2 separate regions of the Homo sapiens genome follow, and region 1 is linked to region 2. Evidence: fine-mapped expression QTL. Tissue or cell type: nucleus accumbens. Region 2 holds a variant in brackets; the other region holds the start of a gene. All regions are shown on one strand. Distances are between the middles of the regions. Region 1 holds the start of ANO7 (anoctamin 7). Region 2 overlaps ANO7 (anoctamin 7).

Evidence for each region.
Region 1: ANO7 starts here. The variant in region 2 is fine-mapped to the expression of ANO7 in nucleus accumbens (GTEx, PIP 0.94). The same link has a PIP of 0.9 or more in prefrontal cortex.

Annotation. Positions count from the first base shown.
Region 1 is chr2:241,186,564-241,191,919 of GRCh38, forward strand. It overlaps ANO7 (anoctamin 7), which reads left to right and starts at 2,114. Exons shown (of 25, transcript NM_001370694.2): 1 at 2,114-2,203; 2 at 3,494-3,608; 3 at 4,631-4,688. The coding sequence starts at 3,501. LOC105373971 (a long non-coding RNA gene) reads right to left here and starts at 1,859. Exons shown (of 3, transcript XR_924064.3): 1 at 1,713-1,859. RefSeq lists enhancers at 1-188, 1,384-2,068, 2,069-2,752, 3,686-4,186, 4,187-4,687.
Region 2 is chr2:241,214,041-241,219,396 of GRCh38, forward strand. ANO7 (anoctamin 7) reads left to right here. Exons shown (of 25, transcript NM_001370694.2): 18 at 765-862; 19 at 2,053-2,198; 20 at 3,646-3,851; 21 at 4,199-4,341. Among named protein-coding and RNA genes, the nearest start is that of ANO7, 28 kb to the left of the region's middle. RefSeq lists enhancers at 2,258-2,789, 4,897-4,996 and a silencer at 3,424-3,553. The variant C/G (reference allele first, on the strand shown) is at 2,444.

The DNA of each region.
Region 1 (5,356 bases), 27 kb before region 2:
ACCCGGGAGGCAGAGCTTGCAGTGAGCCGAGATGGCGCCATTGCACTCCAGCCTGGGCGACAGAGCGAGACTCCGTCTCAAAAAAAAAAATGTTACAGCCAAAGAAAGATGGTGCAGCAGATTCTGGGCCTGGGCTCTTCCCAAGGCCTGGAACCTGGCGGGCCCCCTGTGCTGGTTGCGGCTTTTCTCCCTCCCTCCCTTCCTTCCTTTCCCTCAGAAGTAACACAACTTGAAAAAACCACCCACCCAAACAGAGTTGTATGAAGTAAAAATGGAAAGACACTCCTCAGGGCCGAACCCCCTTTAGGTGTTGTGCGTGCACTGTCGCTGAAAGGGCTCCCACTGGGGTGTGGTCACCTCCAGCAGCCGGCCCTGAAGCTCTTGAGTAGACAGCCCTGAGGCCACCAGAGCCACTTTGTCACCAAGAGCAGAGAGCCAGGAGCTCCTGGGAGGTGGCATGTCTTCCTGGGAGGGTCCTTGGCCAATGACTGAGCAGAGTAAGAGCCTACAGTTGCATCCAGGTGAGGAAACGCTTCGTCTTGCCTCCCCTGCAGAGTGCCCATGGCAGGCTGAGGCCACCCTCCACAGGTCTTGGGGAGATGGTGCCCCGCTCATCCTCCCTCCCCTCCTGCCTCCCGACTCCTTTCCTGGTTTCTGGAGCACTTCCCCAGTCCAGCCCTCGTCCAGGGATCCACCTCAGGCGCCTGCAGGCTGAGCTTGGCCAAGCAGAGACCTCTCATGCAGATGCCCTGAGGCCCAGGGCCCCAAGGTCCTGCCGCCCAGGCTCTGCTGGTGCTGACAGGGAACCCGGCCTGCAGGGCCTTCCCGCTGTTCCGAGGCACAACACAGGTCCAAGAACAGGGCCCCTTGGGAGGTGCCAAGCACAGAGGGGCATAGGTATAAGGGAAAGCTGCAGCCAGGATGAGGGTCCGCCTGGAGGGATTTCAACAGGCAGAAGGGGGCACCTGGAACAGCAAGCTGAGCTTGGGGCTCCCCAGTGCAGTTGTGCATGGAGGGCGAGGAGCACGGGTGGTAGGTTCTCAGACACTGCCAGGCACCAAGGAGGAAAGGGGGAGGGGGAGGGAGAGGGGAAGAGGAGGGGCGGGGAGAAAGGATAGGAGGAGAAGGAGGAGGAGAGGGAGAAGTGGGGGGAGGGGGAGAAACAGGAGGAGGGGAGTGGGGAGAAAGGAGGAGAAGGAAGAGGAGAGGGAGAAGTGGGGGGGAGGGGGAGAAACGATAGGAGGAGGGGGAGTGGGGAGAAAGAGGAGGAGGAGGAGGAGTTGGGGGGAGAAATGATAGGAGGAGAGGGAGAGGGGAGAACGGATAGGAGGAGAAGGAGAGGGAGGAGTAGGGGGGAGAAACAATAGGAGGAGAAGGAGGAGAGGGAAGGTGGGGAGAAAGGATAGGAGGAGGGGGAGAAAGGAGGAGGGGGAGGAGGGCTAGGAGGAGAAAGAGGAGGGCTAGGAGGAGAATGAGGACGAGGAGGAGGGCGGAAAGGATGGGAGGAAGGCTAGGACCCCTCCTGTCCTTTTGCAGATGGGGCCCTGAGCATGGGATGTGCCTGAGGTCACCCCTCAGGCATTAGCAGAGCCAGCAGTGTGATCTGGGTCTCCCAATCTCCCCAGCCCCCGGGTGAAACCCTGGCCCACCACTCAGCACATGCTACGTAACCTCAAGGAGCCTCAGTTTCCCCCCACATAAACAGAGCTTACGAGGTCTGCCTGGCAAGGCTTCCAGCAGAGGTGGCACTTGTGGCTGTTCCTGTGGAATCCCACCTCCTCGAGACCCTCCAAGGCAGCAACTATGACAGCTGATGCCAGCCCTGAAATCTCTAAGCAAATAAGGTTCCCAGGAGGACGGCAGCATTTGCATGCGGGTGTGTGAAAGCCCAGCCAAGTGGGCTGCCTCTGTCTGCAGCTCTGAGCCCCACACCCCCTATTTAAACAAAGATAGATCCTGCTCCAGGAGCCGGGAAGCCTTGCCCTGGCCAGCTGTGCTGGGCACCTCCCCTGCCTGCTTCCTGGCCCACTTGCAGGCAAGGTGAGGGCATGCGAATGGCTGCCACTGCCTGGGCGGGGCTCCAAGGGCCACCCCTCCCCACCCTCTGTCCCGCAGTGAGGACGGGACTCTACTGCCGAGACCAGGCTCACGCTGAGAGGTGGGCCATGACCTCCGAGACCTCTTCCGGAAGCCACTGTGCCAGGTGGGGACCCAGCCTAGACGTGTGGGCCACAGGGAGAAGGTGGAGCGTTGGACTCTAGGGAGGCAGGGCGGCACCCCAGCCCACCGGGACTTTCACACACCCTGGCCTGTGGGGAGGCAGTGCCAGGGCCCGCCCTGGTCCCCAAAGCCCCTTGGGGCACGAGGAGGGACACACACTCAGTGCGGCTCTGGACGGGGTACACCCAGCTGGGGTTGGCTTCCTGCCTGCCCAGGGGCTCCCCCATGGAGCAGGTCCCTTCGTTGGGGTGGGGGGCATCCCCATTCTTTCTGCAGAGAGCTCTGAGGAGGGGCCCGCCTGCCCACCACAGAAGGATGGGGGCATGAGGGGCTGCTGGGTGGCCGAAACTCCTCGGGGACTTTCCTCCAGGAACACCCCACAGTCCGTAGTGAGGCTCCCAGCCTGGGGCCGGGGCCGAGTCCTAACACTGAGACCTGGCTCGGGCTTCAGGGTTAGGCAGGTGCAGGCGGCCCAGGCTCAGTCTCTGTCCCTCTGGGCCTCCGCTAATGTGAAGTGAAGGGTAGAACTAGAAGGCTGCCCCTCCGACCTCCTGCGGCGCCTCCATGGTCACACCCTCCGGTCATCGTCGCAGCTCCAAATGCCAGCCCCAGCTCGAACCCTCTCCTTCCAGGGCCACAGATGTCGTGCTCCTGGCCCCGTTTTGCCAGCCCAAGACTAGGAGCCACGGCACCTGTCCTCCCACAGAGAGAGACCCCCGGGGCGAAGGTGCGGGAGGAAGCTGGGACCCCCAAGAGTTGTGAGGCCGGGCTCCATCAGGCCCGCCTTGCTGGGGAGCTCAGGGCCTATGGGTCCTGGCACTGGGTCCTCAGGCCATGAGCGAAGGCAGGCGACTTGAGGGGTTTCCTGTCCCTGGCTCACATGGCTCCACCCTACGGATAAGAGAGGGAGAGGTGTCTGTACTCCAGGCCCACCTTTCTGGGCCTTCTCAGGCTCCACTGAGTACCCAGGCAGAGTGGACGGCATTCAGGGCTGGGGGACACGGGCACTCACTGGATGGACAGACAGACGCCTGCTGTGCCAGGCCTGCCAGACGCTCCCGCCCCGGCACTGGTTTCTTCCTGGAGCTCGTGGCTGGCTAGGGGGTTCTCCATGTGCTCATGGCCAGGAGAGTCTGCCGAGCCAGCCCAGCCCCATTCTACTCCGAGTCGAGTCTGTAAAGTGAGCTCACTGCAGGCAGTGTGGTGGCCCCAGGAACGGGTCTCACCCATCCCCTCTCTGACCCCCATCCCCACCCGGCCTTGCTGGGTGCAGGAGCAGGATGCTGCGGCGACGGGCCCAGGAAGAGGACAGCACCGTCCTGATCGATGTGAGCCCCCCTGAGGCAGAGAAGAGGGGCTCTTACGGGAGCACAGCCCACGCCTCGGAGGTAACAGCACCCAGGAGACTGTGGTGCGACTTGAGAGGTCCTCCCCTGCCTGGGTCTATGCCCCCACCCTGGGCCCAGAGCCTCTGGGGGTGGATGGGCATCACCGTGTTTCTCCTGCATCCCCCGGCAACCCCCAAGCCCTCGCCACCCAGTCCTCAACACACACAGTCAGATCACCGCTCTCCTGGCCTGGCCTGGCTGTGGAGAACCGAGCAGAACCCACTGATGTTCAGACAGGAGCTCCAGGAGGGTAAGGGGGGCCTGGCCAGGCAAAGGCAAGACCAGGGCGGGGCCCTCCCTGTGGTGTCAGTCCCAGTCAGTGCAGGGCCACAGCAGCACCCAGGGCCATCTGTAGGGCTCCACCTTGTCACTAGGAGGCCATGGATGCGCTGTGAGCCTGTGGGGAGAGGCTGGGTCCCGGGCCTTCAAGGCCATGCGGGAGGCCCTGGCCGTGGAGGGCCCTCTTCCTGGTTCTCCTGGGCCACACGTCTGCCCCAGCAGCCTGCGGGTGGACACGGGACCCCTTCCTGCCGCCCCAAGCACAGCTGAGATGAGCCTCCAGGGAGGGCACAGGGCCTCTCACCTCAAGCATCCAGACACTCTCGGTCGCCATGGCCAACTCTGTCCTCAGGGCCCCTTTGGGAGCAGTCCGGCTCCCCTCTGCCCCTGGAGGCCAGCAAGGCAGGCACCCCTGGTCCTGGCCATGCTTCCCGCCAACCTGACCCTTGCCATGGGCCTGGCCCAAGGAGGAGGGGAGCCGGCTGGAGGCCCAGGGCTGGTGGTGCCCTCTGGCCCTGCCTGCCGCTCCCCGCGCCTGCGCATCCTGTGCCCCCACACAGCAGAGGGGCTTCCCCCTCCACCCCCTACCCACCCGCCGAACATTCTTCTGTGGTCCTGAGTGTTCTGGGGCAGGGCGGGGACGGGTTGGAGGCGAGGACGGCTTCAGGGTGGGGCGGGGTGGGTGTAGTTGTCGAGGGCAGATGCTGATGCTGATATGCTTCTCCATCCTCCATGCCTTCCAGCCAGGTGGACAGCAAGCGGCCGCCTGCAGAGCTGGGAGTCCTGCCAAGCCCCGGATCGGTGAGCCCCTCCCAGCACCTGTACCACACCCGTGTTGGTCCTGAGGGTGGGGACACCACGGGGGTGCCCCCAGGGGCAGCAGGCTGGGGTAGCCTCCTCAGTAGCCACTCTGGGGCCAGTTGCTTGGGGATGGGGCACTGGGGTGAGGGCCTCGGGGTGAGCAAACCACAGTGGGAAGAACAGCAGGAAAGGGGGCTCCCTACTGATGGGGTGGGGCCGGAAGGGCTCTGGAGAGTGGACAGGGCTGCCCCCTCCCTCCTGCTCCAGTCCCCTCCACCATCCTCCAGCTGTTCAGCCACAACTCAGGTCATTTCTGACTCTTATCTCTTGCACTCCACCCCTTTTGTACCTTCAAAATCTCTTTGATCCACCCCCAACCCACTGCCTCTGTCTGCCCGGAGCTACCACCGACTCCAGGGGATTGCACCAGCACCAGCCGGGCTCCCAGCACCCACCCCGCCCACCCTGCTGTCCCCTCAGCACCAGAGAGACCCTAACCTCCTCCCACTAGGATGGCTACTACTTAAAAAAAATCACAAGTGTTGATGAGGATGAGCGGAAACTGGCTCACTTGTGCATTGCTGGAGGGAGTGTAAAATGGTACAGCTGCTAAGGAAAACAGCAGTTCCTCAGAGAATTCAGCACAGAGTTCCCGTAAAAGCCAGTAT
Region 2 (5,356 bases):
CTTTGGGAGGCCAAGGCAGGTGGATCATGAGGTCAGGAGTTCGAGAATAGCCTGGCCAATATGGTGAAATCCCGTCTCTACTAAAAATGCAAAAATTGGCCAGGCGTGATGGCACGCACCTGTAGTCTCAGCTACTCGGGAGGCTGAGGCAGAAGAATTGCTTGAACCCAGGAGGTGGAGGCTGCAGGGAGTTTTCTTGGCTCCTGTACTGAAAACGCTCAGGGCTACGCGGGCTTAGGTATGAATGATCCAGGTGTTAAAAATGCTGCACTGCTATTCCCAGCATTGCCTGTGTTCTCAGAAAGATTATCCCCATCTGGAGGGAAGGTGCCCTGCAGTGCGGCCGACACTCTCGGACTTAGCACCCCTTGCAAGGCACGTGTTCCCAGGAACTCCACCTCCCACTGGCTCGAACTGGGTCACCGATTGGTGGGGCCTGCCTCGTGGGTCTGTCTTGAAGCCAGAGGCTACAGTCAGCCCCATGTAACCCCTTGTGGGTCTCCAAAGGAAAACTGGGGTGCCATTAGGTACATATAGCAGTGCCCCCTGCAGCTTTCCAATGCAGTCTTCCAGCTGGACCTGGGGGCTCCTGTGAGGTCGGGAGGGAGTGTTATGGTGGGAGCATCTCTGCAACCCTCCAGGTGCCCAAGGCATGTCAGGAGGGAGGTGGGGGCCGGGATGAGGGCCAGCTTTGAGACAAGAAGGGATGCGTGGGTGAGTGGCTGGTCCCCCTCTCCCAGCTAACCTGAGCCCTGCTGCCGTAGTGCGCGGCTGGAGGCTGCCTGATCGAGCTGGCACAGGAGCTCCTGGTCATCATGGTGGGCAAGCAGGTCATCAACAACATGCAGGAGGTCCTCATCCCGTGAGTCCCCCACTCCTCCCTGGGTGGCATCCAAGGACCGAGGGACCCCAGAGCACCTGGCAGTAGCAGCCTCCAGCCCGGCCCTAGCTGGGAGAAGAGGTGAAGGGAAGGCACCTTGCCTGGGGAGGGGGAGGGGGAGTGTGCCCGGCCGTCTGCCCCGGGCTCTGGGCTGCCCGCCCTGCAGCTGCCCTGTGGCTGGCTGAGGTCTTCTGGGTTGTAGTTGTGGGAGACGCTACCCCTGGGACCAGCTTTGGCTGGGGAGGGGGTCTGGGCTCCTGGACCCAAGGCTGGGGTGATGGCTCTGTCCGTTCAGAGATGCTGCGGCTGGGCCAGAGTATTCCTTGGCATCCCCAGGCCCCAACGCAGCACAAGAGGGAGGAGGAAAAGGAGGTCCCAGGGTTGATCCTCAGACACACGTCTGCCTCAGATGCCCCTGCCAGGGACACCCTGACCACAAGGCTCCCATAGCCAGAGTCCTTCAAAGAGGCTGCCCAGGGCCTCGCCTCCCGCTCAAGGCCAGACTGACCTGAACGCCCTCCCAGCGCCCCCTGAACACCTGATCTGCCCCCAGAAGGCAGCTCCCAAATCAGCACTGACATTTCTGGGCCACCAGGAATAGCAGTTGGGAGATGGTGGCCATGCCACATCCCGAGAGATGGCCCTGCCTCTTGGAACTATTGGTGCTGTGAAACCACAAGACCATAAGGTGCAGGGTGGAGCTCTGTGCCTGGCAGGAGCAGGGCACGGATGAGTGACAGTGTGATAAGGCAACATGCACACATGCCCCTGTGTAGGACGAACCCAACACGTGGGCCTCCACATCTGCTTTCCCTGGGACACCACAGTCGTCCTCGTCCACTCCCTCCCAACCTTGGCAGAGCTCTTGGCACTGCTTTGCAATTCCGGGAGGAGCCCATTACCCCTAAAGCCTTAAGGAACAATGCGGGGGGCTGGGCGGGTGGACTGCCCTCCCACATCTGACCAACAGACACAGACGCTTTCACTGAGTCCGATCTGCAAAGCTGTTGGCTCTCACTGCGTCCACCCCTCAGCCCCAGACCCCATCCCTCCCTGCTGCCCTTCAATTGCAAAGCAACAGGCTTGTCCCGGCCACATCTCCCCCAAGGACTATAGCAGCCACTGAGACCCATGTTGGATCAAAGGCCATTTTCCTGTATTCCCGTCCCCAGGAAGCTAAAGGGCTGGTGGCAGAAGTTCCGGCTTCGCTCCAAGAAGAGGAAGGCGGGAGCTTCTGCAGGGGCTAGCCAGGGGCCCTGGGAGGACGACTATGAGCTTGTGCCCTGTGAGGGTCTGTTTGACGAGTACCTGGAAATGGGTAGGAGCCCGTTAGCAGCTGCGGCAATGGCTGGCGCCGTGGGCAGGGATGGGTGGCCACTCTGCTCAAGGGCCTCCCAGCCTGACATTCCTGTGTCTGCATCTGCCCTGAAATGTGCTGTGGGGGTGGGGTGGGAACAGAGGGTCGGGCCTGTGGAGAATCCAGAAAGGAATTCTTTTCCCCTGAGAGTGCCCAAGAGGGTTGGCTGAGGACAGAGGGGCACCGGCACGGGGAGGAGGCCCCCG[C/G]GGCCGTTGCAGAGCTCCCCTGGGGTCCCTGGACCTAGAAAGCATGGGCCAGAGCAAGGGAAGAATTAGGAGAGCAGGCCCTGGGGGCTGACAGAAGTCCTCCAAGGGTGAAGCCACAGTGGGAGGCAGCGGCCTGGAGAGCCAATGTTCCCAGAAATCTCAATGCCCACGCTATTTGCAGACCTACCACTGTCACCTTACCAGGTGGTGGCCAGTGCCAGGGGCTCACTGCCTGCACGGGTGGTGCACTCTGGAGGGTGGGTCTGTATCACCTGTGCCGTCCCTGCAGTGCAGGGTCTGACTCTGAGCTGACAAAAGGGAGAAGGAATCATCAGGCAGTTTGTTTGTTTGTTTTTGTTTTGTTTTTTGAGACGGAGTCTCCCTCTGTCGCCCAGGCTGGAGTGCAGTGGCGCCATCTCGGCTCACTCCAACCTCCACCTCCCAGGTTCAAGCAATTCTCCTGCCTCAGCCTCCCGAGTAGCTGGGATTACAGGCGCCCACCACCACGCCCGGCTAATTTTGTATTTTTAGTAGAGGCGGAGTTTCACCGTGTTGGCCAGGCTGGTCTCGAACTCCTGACCTCAGGTGATCCACCTGCCTCAGCCTCCCAAAGTGCTGGGGATTACAGGCGTGAGAAACTGTGCCCGGCAGGCAGCTCTTAACCTAGCAAGCGGGCATGTGAGCCGGCAGGCCCCGGAGCTCCCCAGCGTAGCCGCGGCATCTGTGGAAAGGGAGCAGGCCAGTTCCCAGGGCGAGGAGTGGACGCCCTGACCCTCCTCCACTGAACCCTGGACCCCAATGATCTCACTAGTAATTCTCGGCGAAGACCCAGAAGCCCCTTCCAAAGAGCCCTCTCCTAACAGCTCCCCTGTGGGGTGACTGGAGAAGCTGGTTGTAAAATCAGGAGCAGGTTTCTGCCCCAACGCCTGCCCTGAGTTAGTTCCTGAGCTCACCGAGCCGGAGAAGGCCCGTGACCAGCCAGAAGCACGGAGCGCAGGGCAGGACAGCCGGCCTGAGGCCGGTCAGGAGAGGCGGCCCTGGCGCTGCGCGGTCCAGGACGAGGGAGACCAGGAGGTGGGGGCGGAATGAGCCGCGATGGGGTGGCGGCACCACGTGGACTGGCCGGTCCTCCGCGGGGGGCGCGTTCCGAGGGCTGAGGGCGGACGGTGGCGGAGAGCCCGGCCGTGACCCCCTCCCCGCAGTGCTGCAGTTCGGCTTCGTCACCATCTTCGTGGCCGCCTGTCCGCTCGCGCCGCTCTTCGCCCTGCTCAACAACTGGGTGGAGATCCGCTTGGACGCGCGCAAGTTCGTCTGCGAGTACCGGCGCCCGGTGGCCGAGCGCGCCCAGGACATCGGCATCTGGTTCCACATCCTGGCGGGCCTCACGCACCTGGCGGTCATCAGCAACGTGAGGCCCGGGCGGGAGCGCGGGGCGGGGCGGGGGCGCGCAGGGGCGGGGGCGGGGGGGGCAGCGGGGGCGCGCAGGGGCGGGCCGGGGGCAGCGGGGGCGCGCAGGGGCGGGGCTGGGGGCATCGGGGGCTCGTAGGGGCGGGGCGGGGGGGCGGCGGGGGCGGGCAGGGGCGGGGGGCAGCGGGGGCGCGCAGGGGCGGGGCGGGGGGGGCAGCGGGGGCGCGCAGGGGCGGAGCGGGGGCGCGCAGGGGCGGGGCGGGGGGGCAGCGGGGGCGCGCAGGGGCGGAGCGGGGGCGCGCAGGGGCGGAGCGGGGGCCGCCTCGCGCTGACCCCTCCGGCGCCCAGGCCTTCCTCCTGGCCTTCTCGTCCGACTTCCTGCCGCGCGCCTACTACCGGTGGACCCGCGCCCACGACCTGCGCGGCTTCCTCAACTTCACGCTGGCGCGAGCCCCGTCCTCCTTCGCCGCCGCGCACAACCGCACGTGCAGGTGAGCCCCGCGCCAGGTGGAGGGGGCCGCGGGCGCACGAGGACGAGGCGGAGCGGGGCTCGGGTGGGGTGGGGGTGCGGCGGTGGGGAGCCGGGAGGGGCGGGCGCCGCCGGGCAAGGCCGGGGGAGGGGGGGAGCTGGGGGCGCCGTGGGCAGGGGCTGGGGGGAGGTTCCCCGCGGTAAGGGACGGAGCTTTGCGGGGCTGGAGGGCAAATCGTGGATTCTAGGTGAATTGCTAGTTGGTCATAGTGTAGCAGGACGAGTCGCAGACAGAACTCCTCAGACACCGGATTAAAGAAGGAAGAGGTTTTTTTATTCGGCCGGGGGCGTCGGCAGACTCGTGTCTTCAGAGCGGAGCTCGCCGAAAAAGAAATTCTTAGCCCTTTGAAGGGCTTACAACTCTAAGGGTCTACGTGAAAGAGTCATAATAGATCAAGTAAGCGTGAGGAACGTGACTGTGGGCTACATACATCAGCTAACGGTACAAAAAGTTTTACGGTGCTTTCTCATACAGCGTCTGGAATTCACACATAACACCAGTAGTTTTGGTCAGGGGTTAATATTATTGTTATTTTAACCGCCAGGGCCAGGTGGTGGCGCCAAGGTCATCTAGCTATTTATCTTCTGTTTCTTTCCAGCTTTTTGCTTTCTTCCTTTTCTCCTGTCTTATAAACTAGGGAAAAGGGGAGGTTGGGGAGAAACTGGGAAGGACAACAGGAGAAGTGGTGGCCTCATACCATAATAGAACCTGCAGAGCAGGTAGATGTACTTCACCCGCAGTTGTGGAGACTTCCTTTGTGATCTGGTTACAATGAAGTTTTGCATGTGTTTCAATAAACTTGAAAAGCATCATAGTCTCCTAATGTTGGAGCAAATCTCAGCAGTAAAATTACGAAACCATAGGGTTATCAGTCTTTTCATATCGGTCTCTCTCAGGTTTTGCTTTTGCTCTATGTATTTTGAGCTTTTTAGTTGTGTACGAATTCATACTTGTGATCTCTTCATAATGGATACTT